2 linked regions of the Homo sapiens genome follow. The protein of the gene in region 2 purifies or fractionates together with the protein of the main gene of each other region. This does not show direct contact. Each region holds a gene or a part of one and is shown on either strand. Other genes may lie near its edges. The genes, in order: CDC27 and ANAPC11.

Evidence for each region.
Region 1: the proteins of ANAPC11 (region 2) and CDC27 purify together in Homo sapiens (affinity purification with mass spectrometry; 8 studies listed by BioGRID, with this or other methods). This does not show direct contact.

The regions. Positions count from the first base shown.
Region 1 is NC_000017.11:47,178,380-47,186,701, forward strand, and holds part of CDC27 (cell division cycle protein 27 homolog), read right to left. Parts: intron 3,259-8,322; coding exon 3,183-3,258; intron 1-3,182. UniProt on the Homo sapiens protein: Component of the anaphase promoting complex/cyclosome (APC/C), a cell cycle-regulated E3 ubiquitin ligase that controls progression through mitosis and the G1 phase of the cell cycle.
Region 2 is NC_000017.11:81,893,996-81,901,350, forward strand, and holds the end of ANAPC11 (anaphase-promoting complex subunit 11), read left to right. Parts: intron 1-471; 5' UTR 472-482; coding exon 483-591; intron 592-5,246; coding exon of another isoform or gene 5,247-5,547; intron 5,548-5,924; coding exon 5,925-6,070; coding exon of another isoform or gene 6,071-6,155; 3' UTR 6,156-6,260; downstream 6,261-7,355. UniProt on the Homo sapiens protein: Together with the cullin protein ANAPC2, constitutes the catalytic component of the anaphase promoting complex/cyclosome (APC/C), a cell cycle-regulated E3 ubiquitin ligase that controls progression through mitosis and the G1 phase of the cell cycle.

The sequences.
Region 1 (8,322 bases), about 35 Mb from region 2:
CAAAAATTAGCTGGGCATGGTAGCATGTGCCTGTAGTCTCATCTAGTAGGGAGGTTGAGGTGGGAGGATTGTTTGGGCCTGGGAGGTCAAGGCTGAAGTGAGAAAAGATCACATGACTGCACTCCAACCTGGGTGACAGGCTATCTCAAAAATAAATAAATAAATAAAAATAAGAAAAAAAAAAAAAAACCCTGAAAAGTCACTGTATTAGGATATGTTAGGGGAGAGGGAACCTGTAAAGGACTTTCTATGTGCCAGAAACTACAGCAGACTCTTTACATATTTTACTGTATTTAGTCCTTAAAACTATCTTGTTAAACAGATATTTCTCTTCTATTTTAAAGATAAGGAAAATAAGGCTCAGAATGACTTTTGGCTTAAGATCAAATGGCAAATGAGTATCTGAATTCAGATTCTCTTTCCTTTTTCCGTTTTTTTTTTGAGACGGAGTCTCGCTCTGTTGCCCAGGCTGGAGTGCAGTGGTGTAATCTCGGCTCACCGCAACCTCCGCCTCCCGGGTTCAAGCAATTCTCCTGCCTCAGCCTCCTGGGTGGCTGGGATTACAGGCATGTGCCACTACACCGGCTAATTTTGTATTTTTTAGTAGAGATGGGGTTTCTCCATGTTGGTCAGGCTGGTCTCAAATTCCCAACCTCAGGTGATCTGCCCACCTCAGCCTCCCAGATTCTCTCTTATATCATTCTGCTGTTCCTTCTTTCTGATCCCACAGTCTCAGGCCGACTATAAATCTCGAGAGAAAGACAAATGGGCGACAAAGAACTAGTGAAACTGAGAAATTATTTCAAGAATTTGACTTACAGAAGATCCTACTGATCAACTGCTTTAGCCTCATGCCTTGTTGGATGTCTTTCTCCAAATATAGAAACTGCTACTAGTGACATAGGAGGCCCCTGAGCAAACAGGTTACATCTAGCATATCAACTGATATTGTCCACCAAGAAAACTGTTGCCAAGAATTCTGAGGTTGGTTCAGTGGGAATGAGTACTGTAATGGATTAGTGATGCCTACTATGGTTGCAAATCAGAGAAGTGGTAATTGCTACTCTTGGGAAAGCGGAATCAGACAGATTACTAGTTACCGCCTGTGGACATTAGTCTCAGTTCTTCATCCAGAAAATGGCAATAGCAATGTCTATTTGATAGGATTATTGAAGATTAAATTAGTAACTAATATTAAATACTTAGAGTACCTAGTATACAGTAAGAAATCAATAAGTGATAGAATTATTGTTATTATTACTGAGCCAGGATAGTATCTGCTCTTACTACACTTAATTCTAAAATCTTTCCTCATATAAATATGGTTAAACCGAATGGTGAGGTTCTATATTGAAAGAAACTAACATTTACTGAGCAACTTTCCAAGTGCCAAGCATTGTATCAGGTACATAAATAACGTGGATTAAACAGCTTTATGTGGACTAATCTGGGAATCTTGCCACCAATTCTATGGGAAAATCTAATTGAATTCTAAACCATGAATTTACAATTTTTAAGAGCCTAACTATAATAAACTAGAAACTGCCTATTCTTTAATAATAAACAAAAACAAAAAGGAAATACTAGAAATAGAAGACAGTGGCCGAGTACAGTGGCTCACATCTGTAACTCCAGCTCTTTGGGAGGCTGAGGCAGGAGGATCACTTCAGTCCAGGAGTTCAAGGCTGCAGTGAGCTATGATTGTGCCACTGTACTCTAGCCTGGGCGACAGAGTGAGATTCTGACTCAACAAAAATTTTTAAAAATACAGCAAAATATGGGGCCTGCCTAGGTATCAATGAAAATATTTTTAAATAGATTATTCACAATAAACATCACTTTTGCATAAGTGAATGGAGTAGATTAATCTATTGTATAATCTTCTTTCTAAGCCTTCCATTCCTTCTCACCTTTCTAATCTTTTCATTGGGACCTTAAACTCCTGCTGCCCAGATCTTCCTCACTTTTCTCACTGAATTCCCATTCTCCACCGAGGAGACAGCTCTCTCACATGGACAGTAATCACCTTACATCCCACTATCTCAGAGTCAAGGTAAGGCTGGTTTCCACTTAACTTCTCAAAACTACTTCCAAGCATTGCTCTTTGTCCTTTTGTGAAATTTCCTGCCCCTGAGGTTTAGGCCTTGTTCTCACAACTCTCAGCTACTAAACCCATACTGTTTGACTTGTAAATTCCATTTAAAAGTACATAACCCAAGGAAATGACTCAAAAAAAAAAAAAAGCTGTACACAATGATCTATATCAGCATCTTAGAAAGGGAATTATAATAATGACAGAAACAAAACATACATTATCAGTGGTGTTTATTAAGCATTGATTACCAAGCCAGATGGCTGTGCTAAGGGCTTTAAATAAACCATCTCATTGAATTTTTAATTCTAAGGGGCAATGATTATTTTATAGATGAAATATCTGAATTTTCAGATATTAAAGTAACTCGTCCAAGGTTATAAAACTGTACATTTAAGTGACAGGTTAGGATTTGTTCCAAGGCTATAGAGTCTAAATCCATGTTCTTCACCATAGAATACAGACTCTTTTCTTAAAAAAAAAAAAAAAAAAAAAAAATACATGGCATGGTGGCCCATGAGTATAATCCCAGCACTTTGGGAGGCCAAGGCAGGTGGATCACCTAAGCTCAGGAATTTGAGACCAGCCTGGGCAACATAGCAAAACCCTATCTCTACCAAAAAAAAAAAAAAAATTAGCCAGGCGTGGTGGTCCGTGCCTGCGGTCCCAGCTACTTGGGAGGCTGATGTGGGAGGATCGCTTGAGCCTGGGAGGTAGAGGTTGCAGTGAGCTGAGATGGTCCCACTGTACTCCAACATGGGTGACAGAGTGAGACCCTGTTTCAAAAAAAAAAAAAAAAAAAAAAAAAAAAAAAACCCAAAACAACAAAAACCCTGGGGGAAAAAAAAACCTAAAGATTGAAAAATGATTAAGTAAATCATAGCATATAAACCTGAATCAATTCTACATAGTTATTAAAAGTAGTATGTAAGGGAACTACACAGAAAAAAAGTAAAGATTTTATGAACTAGTGTCAATCAGAAAAACAACAAGATGATGATAGCTAGAATCTTGTTACAGTGATAAAAAGTTATGGAATTTCATATATGTTATTCATTTATCATTCTACAGCAATGAATAGATTTCAAACCTTCTGCATAAAGGCGTTCTGCGAGGAAAACCGCATCTCGGTAAGCATAGTGGTTTAGTGCTTGCCATATAGCAGCCTGCAAATGGAGGAAAAAGAACATAAATATACATACATACAGACTTTCAAGGTAACTACTAGCACACAGCCTTACATCAAATACTGAAATTAATATCCCTAATTTAAGTGATAAAACCCCAATGCCCACAGAGCAAACTCCAGAGTGTGCCGGGCAAGGCTCTTCACAGTATGGCTCCTAACATATCTGAATTTCCTCACTCAACTCTCTATGGACTTTTAGGCTTCTGTGCCTTTGTACACCCTTTTCCTCCATTGGGCAATGTGGGCTCCCCTCACCAGTCTCCCCTTATAAACTGCTCGTCCCTAAAGATCCAGCTTAAATAACATCTGCCCCATAAAGCTTTCCTGGCTGATGTCAAGCCATTTCTTTTTTAAGATACCTCTTCTAGTAGAGCACTCATAACATGGTTATTTGTTAACAGGACTGCCAACCCTACTAAACTACAGACTTTTAGCAGCAGTGGTTCTCAACCACTTTATGTGATATACATGACAGAGATATTAAAATGTATGTCATCCTCCCACAAAAACTTCCCTATCTATTACCTTTAATGCCACTCAATTCTCATCCACTCCAGGAAGCATATTGGAATGCAAATGAGTAAAGTTATCATAGGAATAACTTTTAATTTTTTGAATATATGTTTTCTCTTTTAGAATTACAAAACATATAACCTAAAGTATATATGAGATAGAAGGACATTTTAAGTAACAATAACCAAAGACATTTAGGCCCATGTACTCACCACCCAGCTTAAGAAATAAAATATCTCTGAAACTCCCTGTGTGTTCCTTGTTGATACCAAAACCTCTCCCTGCCCCAAAGAGGAAACCACCACACTGAATTTTCTTGACCTTTCTCTTGGTTTTCTTCACAATTTTATACATTTGTACATATCATCTCTAAGCAGTATAACATTTACTTTTTCCTGTTTTTGAACTTTAAATAAATACAATCATATTGTATACATTCTGCTACGATTTGCTTTTGAAATCCAATGTTTTGAAAATTCATTCTTGATGTGTGTAGCTAGAGTTCATTTGTTTTCATTGCTGAATAAATAATATTTCCATTGTATAAACATATCAAAATCCAAAATGTATTTTATCTATTTTACAGCATGTGGACATTTGGGTTATTTCTAGGGTGTTTTTTTGTTTTGTTTTGTTTTTCCAATTATAACAATGCTGCAACAGTCTTAGATTCATCTCCTGGGGTATATATTTAAGAATCTCTCCAGCCTATCACGGTGGTGTGAGCCTTTAGTCCCAGCGACTCAGAAGGCTGAGCTGGGAAGACTGCTTGAGTCCAGGAGTTCAAGGCTATGATCATACCTGTGAATAGCTGCTGGAGTGCAATAGGAGCAAGACTCCCATCAAAAAAACACAAAAAAGAATCTCTCCAAATTAGGATATATATTTAGGAATAAAATTACTGGGTTGTTGAATATGCATATGTTCATCTTTACTAGGTAATGTCAAATCATTTTTAGTAATAAACTACTTTTGAGATATCTCACACCTGATCATGATACAAGCGTTATTTTTTATTTTTAGCACATACACCAGCTTATAATTTGTTGAATGATTTAAAAAGGTTACAACGGAAACCAGTAAAATCTGGTTACTGATCACTAGCTAACATTGTACCAGTACATCTAAATTATATTAAGTGATTAATATGCCTTAGATACAGTAAAGGCTCAACAAATTTTGTTGAACAAACAAGTAAATGTTTAATAATTCTGCAATGAGTATATTAATTATAATTTTAAAAATAAAAGTAGTAAATGACTTAGCCCTTTCTATTTCCTCAAGAAAGAACAGTAATGAACTTAGTTTGGGATCTCCAGAGCCTCTTGTTTAACCTTTGTTTATATAGCTTAAATTTTATAAAGTCTCAAAGATGTCTAATTTTACCATTCCTATCTAGATACAAGGAAAAAGATGAGATTAGGCACCATTATTATACACTCTAATTGCACCAAGTACCTTTCCTTTGTAATACTTCCCACTGCTATAATTCTGTATTAATTTAGGAGAGTATTTGAGTGATGTTTTCCTTACTATATTACAAACTCCACAAGGTAGGGGCTACGTCTGTTTTTGCTCATTATTATACTCCCAGTATCCATTATGTGCTTTTAAAGCAGGTGCTTATATGTTGAATGAATAAGCAAATGATCTTTAATTTCTAGCAGTCTTCCACTGTTGACACTCTTGTACGTTAGTCTTAGCATTAAGTTTCTTTGTATTCCTAGATGTATATCTAATAATAAAGAATCTCTGGGAGTCTCTATTGAAAGAAACTCTGTGATAAATAGAAGAATTATTTTATTATGCAAATAATTACCACCAAATTACTCCTTTATGAAATCTGGGATTTCCTAAGAACCTACATGTTTAATTTTGCTGTAAGTGAAAGAAAATGGTGAGTAGAATGAAGATACCAAAGATTTGATGTTTGGAGACGTGCTCAAATTTGTGTGCCAGCACTTCCAGTAGTGGGACTTTGTGGGAAATACTCAACTTTTCTCAGCCTCAATCTCTTCATCTGATAAATGGAGTTTATTTATTGGAGTTGTTTTGTGGATTAAATGAAATGATCCATTTATAATGCTCCTAGTATACTATCATACATTAAGCACTTGGAAAACCTTTTCCTTGCCAATCTCTTAATATAAAGAAATTCAATAAATATGTAGTTTCTGTTGCATAACATCTCCCCAGCATACCTGCTACAACTGCTTATTTTGCAATATATAAGCCACAAAAGACTCAAATGATTTACCAGCTATTTTACTACTATGGACCACTAGGAAAATTTCACACACATATACTAAAGTCAAAAAGTCCTAGAGCTTTGAAATTTTTTCTGTCCTTTTAAAATTAAAGAAATAAGAGGCAAGGGCGGGGGGAAAAAAGAAGGAAAAAAGGTATCATATTCAAGAGTTGTATCCATTTCTGACTTAAAATCAAGCTTTGCTCAGAACATCATTCCCTTATCACCAGTTCTTAAGAGCATCAGAAAAAACTTGCCATCTCGAGAATCTCACATACTGCTTCCATCCCGCTTTGCTCAATCAATTCTAAGTTCCTGACTAACAGTGTCTCTTGTGCCGGGATTGGGGGGAAGAACAGATTATTCTCTAAGGCACTACAGATTAGTAGCTGATGATGAACAGGGCTAAAATCAGCACCTCTGCCCAACTGATGGTGTGGGCCTTCCCTTAAAAGAACACCCAGTGCATTACCGCTAGAGTTCTACAAATTAAAGCCAGATGAACGAAATGCTGCTAAAAGAAAGTTATGAAGCCAAAAAGAACAACGCTCCTCTCCCTCTCCCCTAAAAAATGTTTAAGAGAAATCTGACTGATTAATGGGTTAGTCCCCAGGTGCACTAATTTAAAAGATAAATAAACCAACAGCTTAAAGTTGCAAAATTCCTTACCAGCTAGCTATTCTTAAATATAAAATATTATTTAAAATATAAACAAACCTCTATAAGTTGTACTTAGACTTAAATGTAATCACTATAAATTTTTCTCTTTTTTTTTGAGACAGAGTCTCACTCTGTCACCCAGGCTGGAGTGCAGTGGCGCGATCTCGGCTCACTGCAAGCTCCACCTCCTGGGTTCACGCCATTCTCCTGCCTCAGCCTCCTGAGTAGCTGGGACTACAGGTGCCTGCCACCATGCCCGGCTAATTTTTTTTGTATTTTTAGTAGAGAAGGAATGGTTTCACCCTGTTGGCCAGGATGGTCTCGATCTCCTGACCTCGTGATCCGCCTGCCTCAGCCCCCCAAAGTGCTGGGATTACAGGCGTGAGGCACCGCGCCCGGCCTGTAATCATTATAAATTTTTTGTTAGAGAAAGCTTATTACAAAAAATTTGTTTACTTGTTTTTGTTAAATTTTTTATACATTTTGTGTTCTTGTTTTTGTCAAAAAAGCTGTCTTTATTTTATTTTATTTGTTGGTCTTGAACTCCTTGGCTCAAGTGATCTGTCTGCCTCAGCCTCTGAAAGTGCTGGGATTACAAGCGTGAGCCACTGTGCCCAGTCAGCTGCCCTTTTTTAAAAACCATAAAATAAATGGATAATAAAGGCTTCAGACAATGTAAGAAGATACAAAGAAAAAAATCACTGTTGAAATTTCATATTATACATTATAATTGAATTTCTAGGATACTGATTTAGTTTAGATGCACGTCAGTGGTTCTTACTCTGGGCAATTTTGCCTTCTTACTCCCAATTAATGCCCCAACATTTAGCAATGTCTAGAGGGTATTTTTGGTTGTCACAAATGGAGGGGTCATCCAGTGGTTAGAAGCCAGGGATGCTACAAAACATTCTACAATGCACAGCTTCCAACAAAGTATTAGCTTGCCCCAAATGTCAATAGTGCTCAGATTAAGCAGCCCTGGTCTACATGATCATGCAGTTGGATTATTCTACTAGTCTGTATGTCTAACTCTTGTCTCTTCCTCCCTTTCCAACAGCACCAGATAAATATTCCCAAAGTGGTGCTTTTATTACATAATTCCTCTGCTCAAAAACTCTTCTGCTCATATAATGGTTATTCATTACCAATGCACATTAAATCTAAATTTCTCATTGAGTAGCCAAAATATGTTACTCTTTGAATCCATGTTAGATGCTGTCCCTGAACATTTTATCCCCAGCCAAGAGTACTCCTTCACCATCTAATGATCTCTAAAACAGTATCATGTATATAGTACCCAATTGCTATATTGCTTATTAAATTAATTTTCGAAAGGCTTATTTACAACTTCATCCAACACTTCTGTGAAGTCTTACCCCTAGGAATAATTGCTAAATCTATATAAAATCTCTTTGCTTCTTTTTTAAAAACCAATTTCACCAGGTGACTTTTATAAATATTCAAAAAGCTCTCACTGAAGTCACTTAGGCTAGTGTGTCTTTCCAAATAGTTACCATTAAAAATAAAAGAACTGACAGAAATTCTGCCTCATATGTGAGACTTTTGTAAGGACTCAAATATAAAGTAATACTCTTCTGAGAGGTAGTAATTTGAGACGGA
Region 2 (7,355 bases):
TAGCAGGGCATAGGGGTTCACGCCTGTAATCCCAGCACTTTGGGAGGCCGCAGTGGCAGATCGCTTGAGGCCAGGAGTTCAAGACCAGCCTGGCCTACATGGTGAAACCTCGACTACTAAAAATACAAAAATTAGTCGGGCGTGGAGTCACGTGCCTATAGCCTCAGCTACTCAGGAGGCCGAAGCACAAGAAATGAGCTGAGATCATGCCACTGCACTACAGCCTGGGTGACAGAGTGAGACTCTGTCTCAAAAAAAAAAAATTAATAAAAATAAAAGTAAAATAAAATAGAAACAGGGCTCACGATGTTTCCCAGGCTGGGTTCGGACTCCTGGGCCGGTATGATCTTCCTGCCTTGGCCCCCTGAGTAGCTGGGACTGCACTGTGGCAGGCTTATACCTGTGTTGGTGCCTAAACGTTCTAGCTCTGCAGACTCAATTTAGCCAGTCGTCCTGTTCCCTCCGCCGCAGGCTCTGCTGCCATGAAGGTGAAGATTAAGTGCTGGAACGGCGTGGCCACTTGGCTCTGGGTGGCCAACGATGAGAACTGTGGCATCTGCAGGATGGCATTTAACGGATGCTGCCCTGACTGTGAGTGTCCCCTCCATGCTGTCTGAGCGGCCCCGACTGTGAGTGTCCCCTCTGTGCTGTCTGCTGCCTGCTGGACTAGCCTCAGTAGCTCCTGTTAAATACCTGCACGAAATACCCAGTTTCATTTTCTTTTTTTTTTTTTTTTTTTGAGACCGAGTTTCGATCTTGTTTCCCAGGCTGGAGTGCAATGGCGCGATCTCGGCTTGCCGCAACCTCTGCCTCCCGGGTTCAAACGGTTCTCCTGCCTCAGCCTTCCAAGCAGCTGGGATTACAGGCATGTGCCACCATGCTGGGCTAATTTTTTTATTTTTAGTAGAGACGGGGTTTTGCCTTGTTGGCTAGGCTGGCCTTGAACTCCTGACCTCAGGTGACCTGCCCGCTTCAGCCTTCCAAAGTGCTGGGATTACAGGTGTGAGCCACTTTGCCTGGCCCACATTTTTATTTTCTTTTCTTTCTTTCTTTTCTTTTTTTTTTTTTTTTTTTTTGAGATGGAGTTTCACTCTTGTTGCCCAGGCTGGAGTGCAATGGCGCGATCTCGGCTCACTGCAACCTCCGCCTCCTGGGCTCAAGCGATTCTCCTGCCTCAGCCTTCCAAGTACCTGGGATCACAGGCATGTGCCACTACACCCGGCTAATTTTGTATTTTTTAGTAGAGACAGGCTTTCTCCATGTTAGGCTGGTCTCGAACTGTCAACCTCAGGTGATCCACCCGCCTCAGCCTCCCAAAGGGATGGGATTACAGGCGCGAACCACCGTGCCCCCCCCAACATTTTCATTTTCATCTCATGAAGAAAAGTTGATAGAAAAAAAGCCAGGTGGTTGGTACCCATGTTTATATAAAGATCCTGTCACAGACTCCATAGGATGAAACTCAGCTGTGAAATACGTGGGATTAAAAAGAGATTAGAGTCTGGGCGGGCAGATCACAAGGTCAAGAGATGGAGGCCGGCATGGCGGCCCACGCCTGTTATTCCAGCACTGTGGGAGGCCGAGGCGGGCGGATCACAAGGTCAAGAGATGGAGGCCGGCACGGTGGCTCACACCTGTCATCCTAGCACTGTGGGAGGCCAAGGTAGGCAGATCACAGGGTCAAGAGATCAAGGCAGGGTGTGGTGGCCCACACTTGTCATCCCAGCACTGTGGGAGGCTGAAGTGGATGGATCTCAAGGTCAGGAGATTGAGACCATCCTGGCCAACATAGTGAAACGCCATCTCTACTAAAAATACAAAAATTAGCTGGGTGTGTGGCGTGTGCCTGTAATCCCAGCTACTGGGGAGGCTGAGGCAGGAGAATCTCTTGAGCCTGGGAGACGGGGGTTGCAGTGAGCCAAGAGCAAGACTCCATCTCAAAAAACAAACAAAAAAAAGATTAGTTTAAACTTTTTATTTGAAAATTCTCAAAATTGAATGGCATAGGCCAGGCGCAGTGGCTCACACCTGTAATCCCACCACTTTGGGAGGCCAAGGCAGGCGGATTGCTTCAGGCCAGGTGTTCGAGACCAGCCTGGCCAACATGGCAAAACCCCGACTCTACTAAAAATCCAAAAAAATTAGCCGGGCATGGTGGCAGGTGCCTGTAATCCCAGCACTTTGGGAGGCCGAGGTGGATGGATCACCTGAGGTCAGGAGTTTGAGACCAGCCTGGCCAACATGGTAAAATCCCGTCTCTACTAAAAATACAAAAAAGTAGCCGGGCATGGTGGTGCATGCCTGTAATCCCAGCTACTCAGGAGGCTGAGGCAAAAGAATCGCTTGAACCTGGGAGGCAGATGTTGTGGTGAGCCAAGATCGCACCATTGCACTCCAGCCTGGGCAACAAGAGTGAAACTCCATCTCAAAAAAAAAGAAAAAAAGTGGAAATGTTTGATTATGTTTAGGTTGAAAGCAGAGTTTTGCATCAGCGAAATGGTTTTTCATGAGACCGAAATGAGCGTAAAGCAGAAGCAAGGGTCAAGGTTTTGCCCAGGGAGGACAAGAAGAACTCCCCAGAGGACAGTGGGGAATGGAGAGGACAGTGGGGAATGGGGAGGACCGAGAAGCTACTCACTACCCCAAGTAACCAGGCGTATTTTTGTAGGGCCAGGTGCATGCCCATATTGATTGACAGGGTCTCACTGTGTTGCCCAAGCTGGACGTGAACTCCTGGGCTCCAGCCATCCTACTGTCTCAGCCTCCCAAGTAGCATACCACCACACTCATCTGCCTCCTTTGCTTTTTTTTTTTTTTTTTTTTTTTTTTTTTTTTGAGATAGAGTCTTGCCCTGTTGCTCAGACTGGAGTGCAATGGCACCATCTCAGCTCACCGCAACCCCCACCCTTCTGAGTTCAAAGGATTCTCCGGCCTCAGCCTCCCAAGTAGCTGGGATTACAGGCATGCACCACCACAGCCAGCTAATTTGTTGTATTTTTATTTTTATTTATTTATTTATTTTCGAGACAGAGTCTCACTCTGTCACCAGGGCTGGAGTGCAGTGGCACGATCTTGGCTCACTGCAACTTCCGCCTCCCTAGTTCAAGTGATTCTCCTGCCTCAGCTTTCCGAATAGCTGGGACTACAGGCGCTCGCCGCCATGCCCAGCTAATTTTTGTAGTTTTAACAGAAATGGGGTTTCACCATGTTGGCCAGGATGGTCTCGATCTCTTGACCTCGTGATCCGCCCACCTCAGCCTCCCAAAGTGCTGGGATTACAGGCATGAGCCACTGCGCCCAGCCCTTGTTGTATTTTTAGCAGAGACAGGGTTTCACCATGTTGGCCGGGCTGGTCTTAAAACTCCTGACCTCAGGTGATCCGTCCACCTCGGCCTCCCAAAGTACCAGGATTACAGGTGTGAGCCACTGCACCCGCCCCTGTCTTTGCTTCTTAAGGTGAAATTGAGATGACTGAATCTTAGTACAATTTTTTTTTTTTGAGACAGGGTCTTGCTGTCACCCAGGCGGCAGTGCAGTGTGGCAAAATCATAGCTCACTGTAGCCTTCAATTCCTCAGCTCAAGTGATCCTCCCACCTCCACCTCTCAAGTAGCTGGGACCACAGGCATGCTCCACAATGCCTGGCTAATTTTTTATTTTTTTATTTTTTGTAGAGACAGGGTTTTGCTATGTTGCCAAGGCTAGTCTTGAACTCCTGGGCTCAAGGGATCTGCCTGCCTTGGCATACCAAAGTGCTGGGATTACAGACGTGAGCCACCATGCCTGAACAAAACTACATAAATTTTTAATTTTTTTTGTGGAAATGGAGTCTCACTATGTTTCCCAGGCTGGTCTCAAACTCTTGGCTCTGTCCTGCCACAGCCTCCCAAAGTGCTGGGATTATAGGTGTGGCGCCTGGCCCGTACAAATACTTTTTATTCTAGGCTTAACTTTTACATTGGCCCTAGCTAAATAGAAATCTCATCACTCAGGAATTAATCCTCATTTAATCAAACGGGTAGGGTGTAATCTTAGGAAATTATTGATTGACTCTACCTGATTGGATTTGTAGTTAATAGCTAATTAGGTTAATAACTAAATTCACAAGGCACAGTTTTATTTGATCTCTTTTAAATTGCTCTTAAGGATGTAACAAAGAGTGCGTGGGATGCCCTGAGGGCAGGCATTCGACTTCTGGAGCAGCAGCTTAACTTCTGAAATTCCTCCGAACCATGTGTCCACACCTCGTCTGGCTGCATCCGTGGGCCAGATGTGGGTGGTGAATCCTGTGGATTAGAGGTGGTGCTAGGTAGCCCCCAAGTGACTGCAGTGGTGGGTCCACAGGCAGCCTGCAGAGCCCGCCCTGCAGCATGCCAGCTGGGCCTGTGATGGGGCATCCAGAGGGTGTTGCCCTGAACACTCAGCATGTCTCCGCTGACACAGTGTGCTCAGGCTTTGTTAACATGGGGCCTGTTGGCTGCAGAGACTCAGGAGTTGAGAGTCTAATTTTTGGACCTGCTGATGGTTAAGTCATAGTGAGTCAGTGTTAACGCGCAAAGCGTTTGACGAGTCCAATGTGCTTCCATACTAAGCAGCACCAGGTTTCTTTTGCTAAAATTGAACTCCTGTGAAAAATTCAGAGTGACTAAGTTCATTCAACAAAGACCGTGGGAGCCCGAGGCTGGTAAACAATGAGTCCATCCCGCATCCCAGGGGACTCTGGTGGCAGTGCAGTTTTGCCGAGAGGAGTTTTAATTTAAAAAAATGCAATCAGGAGACCAGCAGGTCCTGGAATGAGTCACCCTCAGTGCATCTGCGGACTCATCAGACACCCCAGGCCGGCTTCGGGTGGGGAATGCACTAGAACGAAGTGACACCTTTGACTAAACGAGGCCTCCCCCGAGTACTCAGAGTGGCCCAGACCCCTCTCCTCAGGGGGCTAGCAGGCTTCAGCTCTCATTTGAAAGGGCCGATATCAAGCAGAGTTGTGCTGAGGCCAGAAACCCCCACGGGCAGGTCCTCCCAGGGCTGGGAGTGGGCATGCCGTGGGGCCGGCGCTGCCAGGACAGGAGGGTGGCCACGAGCTCCAGCTCCACAATGCCAGGCCGACCCTGCCGTGGGGCTGGGGCTGGGACTTGCTGTGCTCTGTTGGCAGCAGCTGTTCCTCAGGGGTTTCCAGGCTCTTGGAGATCAGGGACACTCATTTCTCTTGATCATGGCTGATACAAGCATCCCTCTCTGTGTCAGGTCCTCTCCATGGAGAAAGCATTTCTAGGTGTTTGGGCTGGTGCCCGCAGCCTGTGCCTGTCCTGGGAGGCAGGGCCCATCCACAGGTGCCCATCAACACAGCTTCCCCAACGCCTGGGCAGCACACCGGATCCCTGATGTCTAGGGAAGAGTCTTCTAGGTCCCCAGACCCCACCCCTCCTGCCCTTGATCAAGAGACCAGTTCACTACTCAGATGCACGTCTCCTTGGTGCCTTGACCATTCATGTGACCTTTTTGGCATCACAGATCAAGTGTCTGCAGATGGGCCCAGGGCCTGTAGGTCAGACATTGCCCTTTTTCCCCAGCCTCAAGCACAGGGGACACAGGGTGGGCTAGGCCAGAGCGCCACCTCCTCAGAGAGGCCCCTGGGCTCCCCACTGAGCATGATGAGCCTGGGTGAGGGGAGGCGCCTGCTGCGGTTGCCCCGGGTGGAGGCCGCATGTCCGGTGTCCCTTGGTCATTGCTGGTCTTCGCCTGGGGGCGGGCTGGTCAGGAGACCGATTGGGTAACACTCCTGATTTCGGCTTCTCTGAAACATGAGAGGCTGCAGTGCTGGAGCCACTGCCCAGGGTCCCTACCTGCACCCCTGCCTGGCTTGTCACATGCTCTGTGTCCAGCCTGGTCATGCCTGTCCTTTTCCCCACCTCCCCTCCGTAGGCAAGGTGCCCGGCGACGACTGCCCGCTGGTGTGGGGCCAGTGCTCCCACTGCTTCCACATGCATTGCATCCTCAAGTGGCTGCACGCACAGCAGGTGCAGCAGCACTGCCCCATGTGCCGCCAGGAATGGAAGTTCAAGGAGTGAGGCCCGACCTGGCTCTCGCTGGAGGGGCATCCTGAGACTCCTTCCTCATGCTGGCGCCGATGGCTGCTGGGGACAGCGCCCCTGAGCTGCAACAAGGTGGAAACAAGGGCTGGAGCTGCGTTTGTTTTGCCATCACTATGTTGACACTTTTATCCAATAAGTGAAAACTCATTAAACTACTCAAATCTTGCTGGAGGCCTCTGGGTGCCTGTGTTCTCGGCATATAGATGTGGTCTCGGTGTGTTTTGATATGAAAACTCTCATGAATAAACATCTCCGTGAAACGCCAAGGCCCTCGTCAAACCCTGAGTCATGACTGGGAGGAGAAGGAGCAGGATCAGACGGTAGAGCCTGGGGCATGCTCTTCAGGCATGCTCTTGCCTGCTGGATTGCCGGCGGCGGCCCTGGGACCCTCCCTCAGGCTGGCTCTGAGGGACCCTGGCTGTGCAAAGCTGGCGGCCACTGCTTGTGGCGCCTCCAGACTGAAGGCCACCATCTCTGAGTGGGCGTCCATTGTTCTCACTGGGACTGTCTGCAGCGGGGCTGGGCCTCCCACAGTGTAGGGATCAGTGTCCTGACACTGGGAAGTGTGTCCACACGTCTGAGGCTTCCCTTCCTAGGGAAAGGTGGCCCTGGGAGGCTCCTTTGTGTGCCTCTGCTCCCCACAATCGTGGTGGGAAGGGGCCGCTGGGGGAGTGGCAGCCCCGGCATCTCAGGCTGCTTCTGGACAGAGCACAGGCTGTGTCTCCAGTAACCTAGGGAGCCCTTGGCATTCATGGGGCCAGTGACCCGTGCCCAGTGTCTCTTGACCCTTCCTCACAGCAACCTGAGGAGTAGACCAGGCCTCACCTGAAATCTGTGTCAGGGTTCTCTAGAGAGACAGGACTCTATATGAAGAGTATATATGAAGAGTTTATTGGGAGTATTGACTCACGTGATCACAAGGTGAAGTCCCACAATAAGCCATGTGCAAGGTGAGGAGCAAGGAAGCCAGTCTGAGTCCCAAAACAAAAGTAGAGAAGCCGATAGTGCAGCCTTCATCCTGTGGCCAAAGGCTGCAGAGCCCCTGGCAAGCCACTGGTGTAGGTCCGAGAGTCCAAAAGCTGAAGAACCTGGAGGCCGACGTGCGAGGGCGGGAAGCATCCAGCATGGGAGAAAGATGGAGGCCAGATTCAGCCAGTCTAGTCTTTCCACGTTCCTCTGCCTGCTTGTATCCTGGCTGTGCTGGCAGCCGATTAGGTGGTGCCCACCTGGATTGAGGGTGGGTCTGCCTCTCCCAGCCCAC